Linked DNA regions of Homo sapiens: region 2 is linked to region 1. Evidence: fine-mapped expression QTL. Tissue or cell type: whole blood. Region 1 holds a variant in brackets; the other region holds the start of a gene. All regions are shown on one strand. Distances are from middle to middle.

Region 1 (8,000 bases):
TGGAAGGCCCTGCCTGGTAACCACGTGTCCTGGTCATGCCTTGCCAGTTGAGGCAGACTCTGCAGGTCCTGTGCACCAGGTGAGGGCCGGGACCTGTCTCAGGCCACTGGGGAGCCATGGGGGGCTGTGAGCAGATGAGGGGCAGGGCCTGTTCCCCTGGGACTAGAGAATGGACCCAGCTGGGGCTAACAGGCCAAGGCTCGGAGGGAGGGATGGCAGGCCCCAGGACAGACAGACAGGTTTCCCAGGAGCCTGGGCCCCTCTTCCCACCCCGTTCCCTTCCAACAGGCAGTGGGACCTGGTGGTGTCAACTCAGGCCCAGTCCAGATCGTCAACAACAAGTTTCTGGCATGGAGTGGTGTCATGGAGTGGCAGGAGGTGAGCACTCGGCAGCCCAGGGACTTGGGACCCCCAGATCCTCACGGACTGTGGCTGGGAGGGGACACTGGCATTGGGGGTCTCCAGCCCTGAGGGCTCCTCTTTGCCTCTCCCCCAAAAGCCCAGGCCTGAGCCCAACAGTCGGTCCAAGAGGTGGCTGCCATCCCACGTCTACGTGAACCAGGGGGAGATCCTGTGAGTGCTGGGCTGGGGGGTGGAGGCAGCATCCAGGGGAGCTGGGGCTTCCTGACCCTCGTCCCTTTGTGCCCCACAGGAGGACCGAGCAGTGGCCAAGGAAGCTGTACATGCAGCTCATCCCGCAGCAGCTGCTGGTGAGGGGCTGGGGCCGGGTGCTGGAGCCTGCACGCAGTAGCTCTTCCAGAGGGCGGGGCTGGGGGCAAGAGCGCCTCCCCAGGTGGCCTGAGCTGGCTGTGAGGGAGCGGAGCTGAGGGTGCTGAAGCAGGTGTGGTGGGTAGCTCCTCAGGCTTGGCTTCAAGGGGTCCCAGGCAGCCAGCTGGTGGCTGTGCAGGGACTGAGCGGGGCAGGGGCAGCCACGACCTGCACCTGGGGGGCTGCCAAGGGATCTGAGAGCGGCTTCCACAGCACTCCAGGGTTGGGCTGGTTGAGCGGTGGAGATGACGTTTCCTGAGGTAGGGAGGACAGGGGAGTCTCAGTTTGGTCCTGGGCCCGGGGGACTCAGCGGGCTGGGAGCCGGGAGGCCGTGGTGGGAGAAGCCAGAGCTGGGGGTCCCCTCGCTTCCCCGCAGACCACCCTAGTGCCGCTGTTCCGGAACTCGCGCCTGGTCCAGTTCCACTTCACCAAGGACCTGGAGACACTGAAGAGCCTGTGCCGGATCATGGACAATGGCTTCGTGAGTGGTGCCAGCAGACGCAGGGGAGGGGCCGGCCAGGGCAGAGCGAGCCCGGACCGCTCACGGGGGCGGACATGGGAGAGGAACAGAGCACCATGTCCCAGACCAGCTGGGGAGAGAGGGTGGCTAGTGTGGGCGTGACTTCTGGGGGCTCTGTGCTGTCCCCACGGCACTGGATGGGGCACTGACCCTGGTTCTGCGGGGGCCTGCTCCTCCTCTGCCACATCAGGGCTGACTCAGCACCAACTCCGCGCTCTCCACTCCTCAGGGACAGGCGCCCTTGTCACTCCTGGTTTCCCGGGAGCTTGTGCCACATCCCAAAGGCCCATTGCTGGGCAGGGAGGGCTGTCTGCCCCCAGCAAGGTCCCAGAATATTTGGCGATTGTCTTATCTGGGGGAGGCTCAGCTGACTCCTCTTCTCTCTCTCGGGCTCAGTTTCTCCATCTGTGAGGTGGAGAAGGTTGGACTTTGGTGTTTCTGAGCCCTCCCCCCGATGTCCACCTTCCAGCTGGGCCATACTTGGGTAATATCCCGAAACTACCTTAAAATTACCTTCGACTCAGTCTGAGTAAACTGTCCACGAAGCTGTTCGTGGGTGGGGGGGGCCTGGGTGTAGGTGCTTTTACATGAAAGCAATTTCAAGCATTCCCTCAGGGGCCGGGTGCGGTGGCTCACGCCTGCAATCCCAGCACTTTGGGAGGCCGAGGCGGGTGGATCACCTGAGGTCAGGAGTTTGAGACCAGCCTGGCCAACATGGTGAAACCCCGTCTCTACTAAAAATACAAAAATTAGCCAGGCATGATGGCCACTCAGGAGGCTGAGTCACAAGAATGGCTTGAACCCGGGAGGCAGAGGTTGCAGTGAGCTGAGATCATGCCATTGTACTCCAGCCTGGGCGACAAGAGCGAAACTCAGTCTCAAAAAAAAAAAAAAAGTTTCCTCAAGGAAACCCAGAAAGGCTCCATGTACCTCAGCCCTTGCTTGTGCTGGGCCGGCCGCTGCAGATCCCTCGGGCTCCTGAGTTGAAGCCATGGCCGGTTGGCTCAGGTGGCTGTGGTGAGGTGGCCCCAGACACAGCCTGGCCTGCCCAGGAGCTCTGAAATGCAGGTTCTTGGGCCCTTCCCGACAGAGCCTGTTGGCCTTTGGCCCACCCATTGCTCTTGGCCACCGTGTCATCCCAATAAGGGGGCCCACCTCCAGGGTGGGTGGGGGGTGTGAGGACAGAGCAGTTAGGCTGTGCCTGGCTCATGGAGCCCACGGCATGATGCCGTGGTTGGAGGGATGCTGGTCCCTGTGGTGCTGTCTGGTGACACCACGCCCTGTGCCTGCCAGGCCGGCTGCGTGCACTTTTCCTACAAAGCATCGTGTGAGATCCGCGTGCTTATGCTCCTGTACTCTTCAGAGAAGAAAATCTTCATTGGCCTCATCCCCCATGACCAGGGCAACTTTGTCAACGGCATCCGGCGTGTCATTGCCAACCAGCAGCAGGTCCTGCAGCGGAACCTGGAGCAGGAGCAACAGCAACGAGGGGTGAGGTGGCCGGCCTCCAGGGCTGCTCAGTCTCCCTCCACCCCCGCTGCCTGCTCACCACTGGCCTCTGATTTCTCGCCGTAGATGGGGGGGTAGTGGTTACCCCGGGCTGGGCCCCTCCAGGAGTCACAGATGAGGCCCCCGCAGAGACTGGTGAGTGGTGACCCTGTCATGTACAGGAGGGACCCTGGGGCATGTGGGGGGGGTGGGGTTGGGAAAGAAGCAGGGCGACCTTGGCCTTGGGGAGAGCAGAGCAGAGGGAGAGGCAGCAGTCCCAGCGGTCCTAGGCTGTCGGGAAACTGCAGCCCAGCCTCAGGGCCATGGGAGGTGGTATCCAGGCCTGGGTGGGGCCAGGCCTCTGCTCACAGGGATGTGGGGTCAGTGCTTGGGAGCCTGTGGCCAGCAGCCCCCACTGCACCCCTGCCCCCAGGTGACACGCTTCTGAGCAGGGGCCCCTGGGGACTTCAACTGCCCAGCAACATGGAGGATGGTGTCCTGAGGCCTCCAAGGACGGTCCCCACCCCTCTACGTTTCCCCAATAAAGCCTTTTAAAAACCTGCCTGCCTTCTCTGCTCACTGCCCGATGCCTTGCAGCCCCCTAGCTCTAAGGTGGCCCAGCAGGCTGGACAGCCCGGGAACTCACTGGGTCTGGCTCTCGGCTGTCCACACCCTCTTCCCCCCCGAATCTCCAGACCCGCAGGCCTTGGGTTCAAGTTCAGTGTCACAGAACCTGAGCTGGATTTTGTCCTCAGGGGTCACACCTGGCCTTGAGCCAGCCCCTCGGTTGAGGCTCGTGGGCTCACCAGCTGGCTCT[C/CG]GGGGGGCCACACAGCGCCCTCCCTGTGTGTTCCCCGGCTAATGTCTAAAGTGCTCATGCCAGGTCCCAGCTGGACTCCCCTCGGTAGGGCCCCACCTTTTGTTACCTGAAAATGTCCTTAAAGCCTCCTCCATGTAAGAAACTGGCAGGCCTGGAGCCCCTCCCCCGTGGGGACCACCCTCCTTCCAGCAAAATGCCGGCCAAGCTCAAGGAGAAACAGCGTTTATTGTGGAGGGGAGCTGGGCGGGGCTCAGCCCTCGGAGAACTGGCAGTACAGCCGCCCCAGCCTCGGCTCCACCCATAGCCGGAACGGGATCTCCAGGATGGCAGAGAAGCCTTCAGCCAGCGTTGGGGCCTCGAACTGCTTCCTGGCAGTGGTGGGAACAGTGAGGGACAGCCTGGATCATGTGGCCCAGCCAGTGCCCCTGCCCCCTGCTATCCCCAACAGTACCTGTAGCCATACATGACCATGTCTGACACGGGGATATGAGAGGAGTCCGTCATCTCTCGAAACTGTGGGGAACATCAGAGGGGCGGCAGGCCCAGGGGTCAGGGGAGGAGGGGGGTCAGGGGGTGCAGCCCGGGGGGTGTCCGGGCTGAGCGGGCTCACCCGGTTGTTGTGGCGCGCCTGCTCCAGAGTGGCGGTGAAGAGGAAGCAGCGGCAGGGGACGCCCGCGGCTCGGGCACACTGGACGTACCTGTGGGGGAAGGAGCTGGATGTGCAGGCCCCGCCCACCCCGCCGCAGGCCACCTACGGCCCCGCGGTCACGCTACCTGGCGCGGCTCGCGGCGTCTGGGTTTGTGTTGTCGATGGCGACCCGTTTCCCTTGCTTCAGGGCTGTCTCACACGTGGTCACACAGCGCTGCCAGGAGCCTAGCGTGTCCTGGGGACACGAGAGGTCACAAACAGATCGGCAGACCCAGGGGGAGAGAAGACCCCGAGCGGGGACGGGGAGGCAATGATGGAGGAAAGCCGCCCCAAACCAGTTGAGAGGTGGAGATGGGAACTTTATAATAGATTTGGGGCGGCAAAAGCCTGGTCATACCCTGTTCACGTGGACATATCCGGCCGACACGAGGTGCTTCTTGAGAAAGGTGGACTTCCCGGCTGTGTGGGGGGCAGTGTCGGTGGGTGGCCTAGGACCCAGGCGGGGCTCAGGGCACGCGCACAGGAACAGGACACTTACCCCCAGGGAATCCCACTGCGACAACCACCTCCGGGCTGGCGCTCAGGAGGGCCCTGGACTCGGGGAGGCAGAGAGGCCCTGAGCGGGAGACAGTCCTCTGCGAGGGGCGGGGGACACGCGTGAGATGCCGTCCCCATCCCCGGGAGCCCTCCCATCCCCACCCCCACCCCCGCCCCAGGGCCTCACCGGATCAAAGGCTGGGAGCTCGAAGCCGGCTGCTGGCCACTTGAGAAAGAACTCCTCAGGCGTGGCGAAGGGCAGGCCAAGGTTGAGGGCAAACTAGGGGTTGAGGACGAACATCAGACACAGGCCAGGGTCGGGCTCGGGCGCGGGGCAGGGGGCAGGGGCCTCACCAGGCGATCGGCGCAGGAGAAGTCTTTCTTCTTCCGCCCCGGGGCCCAGTTGGCCGGGCGTCCGGCTGCGTCTGGAACACACGGGACACCCCGTTCCCACCAGCTCGGAGGGAGGCGTCCCAGCCCACCCTCAGCAGCCTCCAGGCCCTTACCTCCCACAAAGATGCTGTCCCCGATGGATATGGGCGTGCCGTCGTTGGCCTACGGGAGACGGTAGTGAGGAGGCCCTTCCCACAAATGTCCCCCCGCAGCGGTAGCGGGTCCCTGGGGCTGCTTCGCCTGGTCTGTGCCCCACATCAGGAATCATCCCCCGACCTTTCATGTCCTCACTCTCCAGCCACTTTGCACCGTGCTCCTGGCCCCCTCCCCCCTCCGTGGTCTCTCCACACAGCCCCCTCCCTCCAGGTCTCCCGACTTCACCTCCTCCCGTTCCCCACGCGGCCACCGGAGGGCACCCACCCTGCTACAGCTCCAGCCTCCGGCGTGCCGGCGCCTCCCAGGTTCCCCCTCCCTCAGGGCAAAAGCGGGGCCCTCCCTGTGGCCCTGCCCTCTCCCCTCCCTCGCTTAGAGCCAGCCGCATGGGCCTCGCTGTCCCTAACTAGCCCAGGCTAGGGACTGCCTCAGGGCCTTTGCACTTGCTGTCACTCCCACAAGGGGGGGGACCGCTTTCCCCAGGTGTCCACCTGGCTCCCTCCTTTCCCTGCCTTAGGCCTTTTCCTCTGATGTCACCTCCTCAGAGGCCATCCCTGCCCACCACGGGTGATGCCTGCTTTCTCCAGCTCCCTCCCTCCTGCTGTTTTACACGCCAGTCTGCCCATCCGCCTAGAGTCACCGCCCTCGCCGTGAGGGCCCTGCTGGAGCAGGCCGTCCCGCTCACTGATACCTTCAGCTCAAGAATGCGCTAAACTTCAGAACAAATGCACACACAAACGAATGAACGAAGGAATGAACAGCTTCCCTACTACTCTGATGTAGAAAGTCTGAAAGCACTGGTCTCGTAAACCAACATCTAAGATGTCACAGCAAAAAACAGAAGGAGGGAGCGAGAGAGGACAGAGGAGTAAGGAGGCCCCAACCGGAGGCCGGGGAGCCCAGGAGTGAGGGGCTGGAGTGAGGAAAAGGAGGGGGGCCGGGCAGGCTGCAAGACTCACCTGCTCCTGCAGATGGTCCCACATGCCCGTCACCGGCTTCCGGTACAAGCCTGCGTGCGTGGCCACCAGCACCTGTGGATGGGAGGGGGCCACCAGCTTTAGCTCCCCCTCAAGCACCTACTGGATGCCACCCCAGCCCAGAATTTGTAGCTGATGATGGGTTCCTATCAGCATCACACTGCCTGAGGCCTCCGCCCCGCTTACCCTGGAGTCTAAAGCCCTCGCTCTGGATCTCTGTGCCCCCACATAGCTCCCAGCCTCCCTTCCAGCCATACCTGGAAGGGGACCCCCAGCTTCTCCACCACAGCCTCCACCTTGGCCTTGAACTCCTCGGCTGGCAGCTTCCCGCGCCCGATGCTCATCTGGTTGGTGAAGATCACCAGCTGGGGAGCAAAGGGTGTCACCAGACGCTCTGCTCACCAGGGCCTTGGTCTGACTGCGGTCGGACCGCCACGTGCACGTGCCCATGCAGACAGGCGGCTGCACATACCTTGTAGCCCTCGGCTTCCAGCTCTCGGAGCTTACGGGGAATCTCTGGGTACAAGATCCTACGGCAGGTATGAAGCGGCAGGGGTGACCCGGGGCCAGAGGTGGACTCCAGGCCTCACTCACTCCCTTGTTTTGCCTCTTATCACCTCCAGTCACTGGGGCCAGTGGGAAAGACCTTCCCAGAGCGTGTGGTGATGAGCGTCCCGTCCAGATCAAAGCCAGCCACCTGGTGTCACCAAGGAAAGACAAACAGCAGCACTGTGATACCTCTGACCCTCCTCACTCACAGGCTGACTCACACCAACCCTGCCAGGCAGGGTGTTATCACTGCCATCTCACAGATGGGGAAACCGAGTCACAGAGCACCTCCATCTCAAGCATCCGTGATGCCTCTGAGTGGGGCCCGACATCTTAACCTTACTGTCTCCTGTTACTCCTTATGACGCCAGCCCCAGGATTACAGTCTTTAAAATGGGGGTTAATGTCTTACCCAGCCTCCTTCTTCCCCTGGCCTTCACCACCTCGGTGGGCTAATAACCGTGAAAATAAAAGCAGGAGCAAAGCTTTGGGTGCTAACTGCATGTCAGGAACTATGCCACGTGCTTTTTTTATGGATTCAGCATCGTAGAGATGAGACACATGGGACTCAGAATGTGGTGGTAACAGCATTTGAACTCAAGTCTCTCTGGACATAAAAAATCCTCATCGTAATAGCTCCTACTGAGACAGTCATGGTCATTGCTGATTACTGGGTGGTCACTGTGGGTAACGCAGGAGCTGACATATATCATTCTCCCCACTGCTTAACTGCTTACAACGATCCCTGCATTTATCATTAGGCCCATTTCTCAGAAAAGTAAGTAGAGGCTAAAAAGTTGAGAGCACGCAACAAACGTGGGATTGGGTCCCAGTCTGTGGCGGCTCCCTCAGCCCTCGGCGTGGCCCTCACCTTGCCCTGGGGTTTCACCCCAGCTGCGGTGAACACTAGCAACTTCTCCAAGTTCTCCCAGCCGGGGTTTGACTTCCGCATACGCTTCTTCGGCAGCTCAGCATCTCTCTTCTCATCTTGGGACACCAGAGGGGTGCCAGGCGGAGTATCTGGCTGGGATTCTGGTGTGCGGGTCTCTTCCCAGCGCAGGGTCAGTGGGTGGAGGCCATTGACCAAATACAGTGTGTCCCCCACCCCCAGAGAGCCCTCCAACCCCGGCTTCAACTCCTGGGTCCCGG
Region 2 (8,000 bases), 48 kb before region 1:
CTCACCGTGGGGCTCCCGTGCGGCAGGTACACCGGGTAGTCGCGAGCGGTCTGCGGCGGCAGGGACCCCACCAGCCAGGGGAGCAGCACGGCCTCGGGCGTCCCCAGCCGCCACCAACCCTCTGTTGCTGCCACCACCCGGCCGGACACCACCAGACTGACGAAGGTCGTGCCCGCGGCCTCAGCGAACCCGGAGAGGGCTTCCTGGGTACGGGAGGCAGGAGGACTGGGAGTCAGCAGACAAGCGTAGGGGGTGGCAGCGACTTCCCAGATGGGCAGGGAATGGGGAGAAACCCACAGCCAGCCCCGAGCTCGCGCAGTGGCCATGCTCCTACGTCTCACCCTCTCTGAGCCTGAGTTCCTTCACTTTCATACGAAGTCACATCCCCAACTCACACTGTGAAGTCTGTGAAATCTGATTAAACATCTAGCCTGGGCGGGCAAACTGAAGCTAATAATGTAACCGCAGCAGCTACCGTTCATCCAGGCCTGTTACATGCCGAGTAGGCACCATTAGCAACGTAGAGAAGCCAAGTCACCTGCTGAGAGTCACATGCCTGGGAGGCCGCCACACCAGGCAAGTCCACAAGAGCAGTATTTAAGTAGAGGTAGCTAGAGATCTGAGAGGCAGGAGGAAGAACATGCACTGAGGTTGGAAACTTGTTGGGATCTCAGGACTGTGAGGTAGCTGGGTGGAAGTAGACTGTGGATTTAGCAACAGGTTAGGGGGTGCCAGGTGCCACAGGCCTTCAAACACCAGGCTGAGGAGCTGGGACCTTGTCCTGGGGGAGGTGGAGGCTGCCGGAGGGCTGTGAGCAGGAAAGGGGCAGAGCCAGCTCTGGATATAGTAGGGTTCTTCTGGTGGCCGGGTGTGATGGCTCACACCTGTCATCCCAGCACTATGGGAGGCTGAGGCGGGAGGACTGCTTGAGCCCAGGAGTTCGAGACCAGCCCGGGCAACTTAATGGAAACCCATCCCCAACCCTAGTCCATCTCTTAAAAAAAAAAATAGCTGAATGTCAGCCGGGCGCGGTGGCTCATGCCTGTAATCCCAGCACTTTGGGAGGCTGAGGCGGGTGGATCACGAGGTCAGGCGTTCAAGACCAGCCTGGCCAACATAGTGAAACCCTGTCTCTACTAAAAATACAAAAAATTAGCTGGGCCAGGCGTGGTGACCAGCGCTTATAATCCTAGCTACTCGGGAGGTTGAGGCAGGGGAATCGTTTGAACCCAGGAGGCAGAGGTTGCAGTGAGCCAAGATTGCGCCATTGCACTCCAGCCCCTGTGACAGTGTAAGACTCTGTCTCAAAAAAAAAAAAAAAAAAAAAATAGCTGAATGTGGTGGCACAGTGCCTATAGTGTCAGCTACTGGGGAGGCTGAGATGAGAGGATCACTTGAATCCAGGAGTTCAAGGCTGCAGTGAGCTATGACTGAGCCACTGTGCTCTAGCCTGGATGACAGAGCAAGACCCTGTCTCAGAAAAGAAAGAAAGATGGCCCAGGCGCAGTGGCTCACGCCTGTCATCCCAGCACTGTGGGAGGCCAAGGCAGGTGGATCACCTGAGGTAAGAAGTTCGAGACCAGCTTGGCCAACATGGTGAAACCCTGTCTCTACTAAAAATACAAAAAATTAGCCGGGCGTAGTGGTGGGCGCCTGTAATCCCAGCTGCTCGGGAAGCTGAGGCAGGAGAATTACTTGAACCCGGGAGGCGCAGGCTGCAGTGAGCCGAGATGGTGCCATTGTACTCCAGCCTGGGCAACAAGAGTGAAACTACGTCTCAAATAAAAAGAGAGAAAGAAAAGAAAAAAGAAAAGAAAGAGAAAGAAAAGAAAAAAAAAAAAGAAAAAAGATTCTTCTGGGACCAGGTGGGGATAGGACTGGAAGCTGAGAGGATAGGAGGAGGTTGGGACAATGGTCCAGAAGAAAGAGGATGAGGACTGAGCCAGGGCCAGCAGAACAGGTGTAAGAGTTTCCATAGCATCCCCAGTACCTGCAAGAGGGACCCCTCTGGAGGAATCACGCAGTCCACACACTGGGTCAGGTCCCCGATGAGCTCCGAGTCCCCCAGGAAGCTGTCGATGAGGCAATAACTGGCCTAGGAGAGGAAGAAGGGACCAGCCTAGGATTCAAGTGGGCCCAGGGTCAGACAACCAAGAACCTGTGGGACCAGGCTGCCCCAGGGGCTGCTGGGAACTGTAGTTCCCAAATGGCAGTGCCCAGGTATCCTAACTTCCCACCCTCATGTCCTGCAACCTCACCCTCAAGTCCTTCTTCAGTCTCTCCACGTTGCGGATATTGGTCAGTTCTTCAAGTCCCACAAGAAGGACCTAGAAGAATCATATAGGAGAGGATGGGCGAGGGGCTGGGACTTGAACTCCTGGGTCTGAAGGAAGAGGGGGCTGGGACTCCCACTTCTGGGTCTGGGGACTGGGGAGTCAAGATTCCTGGGTTCTGGCCGGGCGCGGAGGCTCATGCCTGTAATTCCAGCACTTTGGGAGGCCAAGGTGGGTGGATCACTTGAGGTCAGGAGTTTGAGACCAGCCTGGCCAATATGGTGAAACCCCGTCTCTACAAAAAATACAAAAATTAGCTGGGCATGGTGGCACGTGCCTGTAATCCCAGCTACTTGGGAAGCTGAGGCACGAGAATCGCTTGAACCTGGGAGGCAGAGGTTGCAGTGAGCCGAGATCAAGCCACTGCACTCCAGCCTGGGCAACAGAGCGAGACTCCGTCTCAAAACAAAACAAACAAACAAACAAAAGATTCCTGGGTTCTGAGGAAGGAAGTGTTGGTGGTCTGCACTCCTAGGTCTGAGGGAAAAGGATGCTGAGATCTCAGATTCCTGGTCTGGGGAGAAAAGAGGACTGGTGAGTCTCACCATGGCTCCAAACACCATTTGGAGTAGTCTCTCCAGCCTCAGCTCAGAGATGCCCACCTCAGATGACAGAACAATGAGGGTGATGCTGTGGAATGGAAGTGAGAAGAATGAGTCAAGGCCTGGGGAATCAGGAAGGGGTATGTTGGAGTCCGCCCATTGATCCTAGAACACCAGATACATCCTCTCTCAGACCAACCTGCCTTTCTTATAGAGAACATCAGGGATCAAAGAGGGTAACTGGCTTGCTAAAGATCCCATAGCCAAATTAACAGCTGCTTTTAGAGAGCTGGAAGGCCTCCGGGGTCATCTTCAACAGGGACTATCACCCAGGCCCTGTCCCTGTCCCACGTTCCCTCCTGGGGACCTGTCATGGAAGCTTTTCCACACCACAGTCGTGTTCTCGGTCCTCGCAGAGCTCAGCTGCACCTCCAGATTCTGCCCAAACATGTGGACTCCATTGAGGGAACCGATGACAGAGAACGGGAGCTAAGGAGGGGTTAGGGACATCAGACAAGAGCACCCCCCCATCCCCTTCCCCCTTAGGACCCAAGTGTGCCAGCTCCCAGCCCCATCCTCTTTCCATATGACCTGGCAGTGCCTCTTTGGGGAACCAGGCTTATTGGTCCATTGCCTCCTCGGTCCTACAAATTCAACACTGAAACTTCCCCAGCCCCTACTGCCTTGAAGACCCAGAGTCAAAACACCGAACCCCCTTCGGTTTAGATACAGGCGTCCAAGGCCCCACCTGCTGACGGGCGGGGGCGCCGCCGCGACTGCTCCTGCAGAATAGGGGGACCCCGCTGGAGGCCGCGAGGCACAGCAGATGCACAGTGCCGCCCGTCCCCTCCTCCCCCATTTAGGACTCCCACCGCGGTCCCTCACGTGGGGACTGTCAGTGCGGGTCTTGGAGCATGGCGGTAATCAGAGTAACTCGGCCTGTGGTCCGGAGCCGCCAGAGGGCGAGATGGGGAGCTGATTGGAAGAGGATTAACTTCCCGCCTTCTTCACCCAACTCAAACAGACCCTCAAACCCTATTCAGGCACCTCCCCCAAACCCATTAGGTTCTCTTCCGCCCTAGCCGGAAGTCACGGTACCCCTAACAAAGATGGCGGCAAATTGAATTTGCAAAGCTTTCTAGTTTCTCCGAGGAGGTAAAGAGAACCAAGAAGCCGGATTGAAGATGATGACTGCGCCAAGGCGTTGCCTAGCCACCATCCTGTAGGCTTTGATGATTTACATTCTAAACGGAAAAAACAGCTGTGCCCGGATCAAAGATTGCGATGGTCCCAAAGCATTGCCTAGCAACCACATTCCCTGTAGGTTTCCAGTATATAGTAGTAAACAATGTGCCCTACTCAAAGATGGCGACCGTGGCGGGGCGTTGCCAAGCAACCACCATTCAGCCTGATATCCATTCCAAGGCTGTAAACAGCTGTGCCCTGCTCAAAGATGGCGGCACGTCGAAGTCCGAGCACCCTCCTTGGGGCGAAATCGAGAAAAACACCATCTCCCCTACAACCTTCGAGGGTGGTTGAGTCCAGCGATCGTTGCCTAGTAACCACTAAAAAAAAGGTTGTTTTTGTTATTAGAAAAAAGAAAACAAGGAAATCCTTTATTTTCCAGAATAATAAAAATAATATCATTTCTGTAATGAATTTATACATGATAGCATACCATGTAAAATGTGAAAAATCCCTTCCCCAATTTTTTTCCTAAAATACAGTTTAACGTAGACTATTCATACGTTTTCACAAAGATGATCAATATACTAACATTTCCACACTTTCTTTTTTGCCATGAAAAAGTATGTCTATTTCATCTTAATAATGTATTTTTATAATCTATTTTATGGATGTGACAAATTGATTTGACCAATTCTGTATTGATGTACATTAGGTTGTTGAACTCCTCCAGACTAGCCAACTAGTGCTGGGACAGCATTTTACTGACTTTTTAAAATGCCCTTATGAATATTTTTATTATTTTACACAGGCAGCATTTACTTGTAATGACAAAAGTATTTATGATTCATTTTTCCCTTCCTCTTCCTTCTTGCAGATCAGCCCATCTTTCTAGCATAATTTTTAATTTTCCTACTTCCTAAAGTACATCTTTTTCTCTTTTTTTTTTTTTTGGGAGAGGGGACAGGGTCTCGTTCTGTCGCCCAAGGTGGAGTGCAGTGGAACCATCTCGGCTAACTGCAACCTCCGCCTCCAGGATTCAAGCGATTCTCCTGCCTCAGCCTCCTGAGTAGCTGGGATTACAGGTGTGCCCCCACCACGTCCAGCTAATTTTTGTAGTTTTTGTGGAGACAGGGTGTCGCCATGTTGCCCAAGCTGGTCTCAAACTCTTTGGCTCAAATGATCCACCCACCTCAGCCTCTCAAAGTGCTGGGACTACAGGCAGGAGCCACCATGCCTGGCCTAGGTACCATTTTAATCTTCCTTCTTGCCTATTGATATTTTTTTTCCTTTCTCTGGATTACTTTTATCTTCCTTACAACTTTATTAAAATGTTAGTTACACAGGCATAAAAGAGGGGGCTGCTCTAGATGAAAAGAAACTTGAGACATAATGTCTAAATATGTGTGTGGTCTTTGTTTGGATCCTGATACAAATAAACCAACTGTAAAAACACATTTTGAGACAATTGGAACGTTTGATTACACACTTACTGTTGGATGATACTAAGAAGTTAATTTTGTTACAGGTAACAATGGCATACTAGTAATGTAAGAAAGTGTTCATAAAATTGGAAAGATGCCTGCCAAGCACACAGGAGTAAAATCATATGATTGTATGGATTTGAAGGCTTCAGCAGGCCAGGCGCGGCGGCTTACGCCTGTAATCCCAGCACTTTGGGAGGCCAAGGTGGGCGGGTCACCTGAGGTCTGGAGTTCGAGACCAGCCTGACCAACATGGAGAAACCCCGGCTCTACTAAAAATACAAAATTAGCTGGGCGTGGTGGCGCATGCCTGTAAACTCAGCTACTCGGGAGGCTGAGGCAGGATAATCGCTTGAACCCAGGAGGTGGAGGCTGCCGTGAGCCGAGACTGTGCCATTGCACTGCAGCCTGGGCAACAAGAACAAAACTCCATCTCAAAAAAAAAAAAAAAAAAAAAGCTTCAGCAAATGAGACTGTCTCAAAAAAAAAAGGGCTTCCGCAGGCTCACTGCCTATAATCCGGGCACTCTAGGAGGCCAAAACGGGTGGATCACCTGAGGTCAGGAGTTTGAGACCAGCCTGGCCAACATGGTAAAACCCTGTCTCTAACAAAAATACAAAAATTTGCCTGCGAGGTGGCACACACCTGTAGTCCCAGCTACTGGGGAGGCAGAGGCAGGAGAATCGGTGGAACCAGGGAGGCAGAGGCTGCAGCGAGCCGACACTGCGCCACTGCACTCCAGTCTGGGCGACAGAGCGAGATTTTGTCAAAAAAAAAATAATAAAATAAAAAAAAATAAAAATAAAAATAAAAGATAAAAGAAAAATAGAAACCCAATAAAAAATAATTTTAAATGATAAAGGTAAAAACCTTTATCATTAGGCTTTCTGTAAGTACTTTTCAATTGGTGATTATTATTATTATTATTACTTTTTTTTTTTTGAGACAGCGCCTCGCTCCGTCCCCCAGGCTGGAGTGCAGTGGCGCGATCTCTGTTCACTGCAAGCTCCGCCTTCCGGGTTCACGCCATTCTCCTGCCTCAGCCTCCGGAGTAGCTGGGACTACAGGCGCCCGCCACCACGCCCCGCTAATTTTTTTTTTTTTTTTTTTGGATTTTCAGTAGAGACGGGGTTTCACCGTGTTAGCAAGGATGGTCTCGATCTCCTGACCTCGTGATCTGCCCGCCTTGGCCTCCCAAAGTGCTGGGATTGCAAGCATGAGCCACTGCGCCCGGCCTGTTTTTTTTGTTTTTTTTGTTTTTTTTTTGAGACAGTCTCGCTCTGTCGCCCAGGCTGGAGTGCAGTGGCGTGATCTCGGCTCACTGCAACCTCTGCCTCCCGGGTTCAAGCGATTCTCCTTGCCTCAGCCTCTCGAGTTGCTGGGATTACAGGTGGGCACCACGACGCCCAGTGATACTGACCTCGTGATGCGCCCGCCTCTACCTCCCAAAGTGCTGGAATTACAGGCATGAGCCATCTCGCCCGGCCGAAGATTATGTTTTAAAATATTTACTGGCCATTCAAAATTTTGTGTGTGTGTTTGTGTGAAACTAGTCAGGTTTCTTTTTATTTATTTATTTTTATTTTTTTTGAGACGGAGTCTAACTCTGCCGCCCAGGCTGGAATGCAGTGGCACAATCTCAGTTGACTGCAACCTCCGCCTCCCGGGTTCAGGAGAATCTCCTGACTCAGCCTCCCAAGTAGCTGGGATTACAGACGCCCACCAGGACGGCTAATTTTTTTATTTTTAGTAGTTAGAAGGAGTTTCACCATGTTGGCCAGGCTGGTCTTGAACCCCTTACCTCGGGTGATCTGCCCGCCTTGGCCTCCCAAAGTGCTGGGATTACAAGCGTGAGCCACGGCGTCCGGCCCTGGTCAGGTTTCTTTCTATTAAAACAAATATAAAGTGGCAGGGCACGATGGCTAACACCTGGGATCGCTTTAGCCGAGGAGTTTGAGACACGCCAGAGCAACACAGTGAGACCCCATCTCTACAAAAAATTTAAAAATTAGCTGGAAGTGGTAGTGCGCGGCTGTGGTCCCAGCTGCTCCACAGGCTGAAGAGTGGCTCCAGTGCGAGTAGAGGCTGCCGTGAGCCAAGATTGGGCCACTGCACTTCAACCTGCACAACAGAAAGAGACCCTGCCTCAAAAAATAAAAATTAAAATTAAAAGATAATAGTAATGAAGTGTTTCTATTTTTCTATATTGTTATTCATCAGTAAGATTTATTTGCGTAGTACATTTCTGTCAACAAACACGCTAGAAAGATTTTCCCAGTTGGCCGTATATTTTTCAACTTGGTTTATACAGTCTTTTGGGAAAAATTAATGAAGACTACGTTTTCTAACTTTGCTGTAGTGCTAAGAAACTCCATGGCAGTCATTAAGATTTTTTCCCTTCAGATAGTTTTCGGGTTTCATTTGTTGCACTTACATTTTTAATCCACCTGGAATGT

What was found. PIP is the estimated chance that this variant, and not a neighbour inherited with it, causes the effect.
Region 2: it holds the start of FUZ, and the variant in region 1 is fine-mapped to the expression of FUZ in whole blood (INTERVAL, PIP above 0.99).

The regions. Positions count from the first base shown.
Region 1 is chr19:49,857,405-49,865,404 of GRCh38, forward strand. PTOV1 (PTOV1 extended AT-hook containing adaptor protein) reads left to right here. Exons shown (of 12, transcript NM_001394010.1): 7 at 289-378; 8 at 500-573; 9 at 653-710; 10 at 1,145-1,249; 11 at 2,582-2,779; 12 at 2,864-3,338. The coding sequence ends at 2,875. It overlaps PNKP (polynucleotide kinase 3'-phosphatase), which reads right to left. Exons shown (of 17, transcript NM_007254.4): 4 at 7,723-8,000; 5 at 6,920-6,999; 6 at 6,775-6,832; 7 at 6,560-6,667; 8 at 6,285-6,356; 9 at 5,286-5,334; 10 at 5,134-5,204; 11 at 4,967-5,059; 12 at 4,781-4,877; 13 at 4,640-4,701; 14 at 4,368-4,477; 15 at 4,204-4,291; 16 at 4,045-4,106; 17 at 3,800-3,961. The coding sequence ends at 3,844. PTOV1-AS2 (PTOV1 antisense RNA 2) reads right to left here and starts at 1,885. Exons shown (of 5, transcript NR_110730.1): 1 at 1,802-1,885; 2 at 1,439-1,693; 3 at 1,150-1,222; 4 at 943-1,023. The variant C/CG (reference allele first, on the strand shown) is at 3,594.
Region 2 is chr19:49,809,373-49,817,372 of GRCh38, forward strand. It overlaps FUZ (fuzzy planar cell polarity protein), which reads right to left and starts at 3,920. Exons shown (of 11, transcript NM_025129.5): 1 at 3,624-3,920; 2 at 3,243-3,364; 3 at 2,879-2,963; 4 at 2,259-2,327; 5 at 1,991-2,095; 6 at 6-203. The coding sequence starts at 3,734. It overlaps LOC105372435 (a long non-coding RNA gene), which reads left to right. Exons shown (of 2, transcript NR_187900.1): 2 at 1-454. RefSeq lists a silencer at 1-124 and enhancers at 3,791-4,597, 3,984-4,223, 4,434-4,483.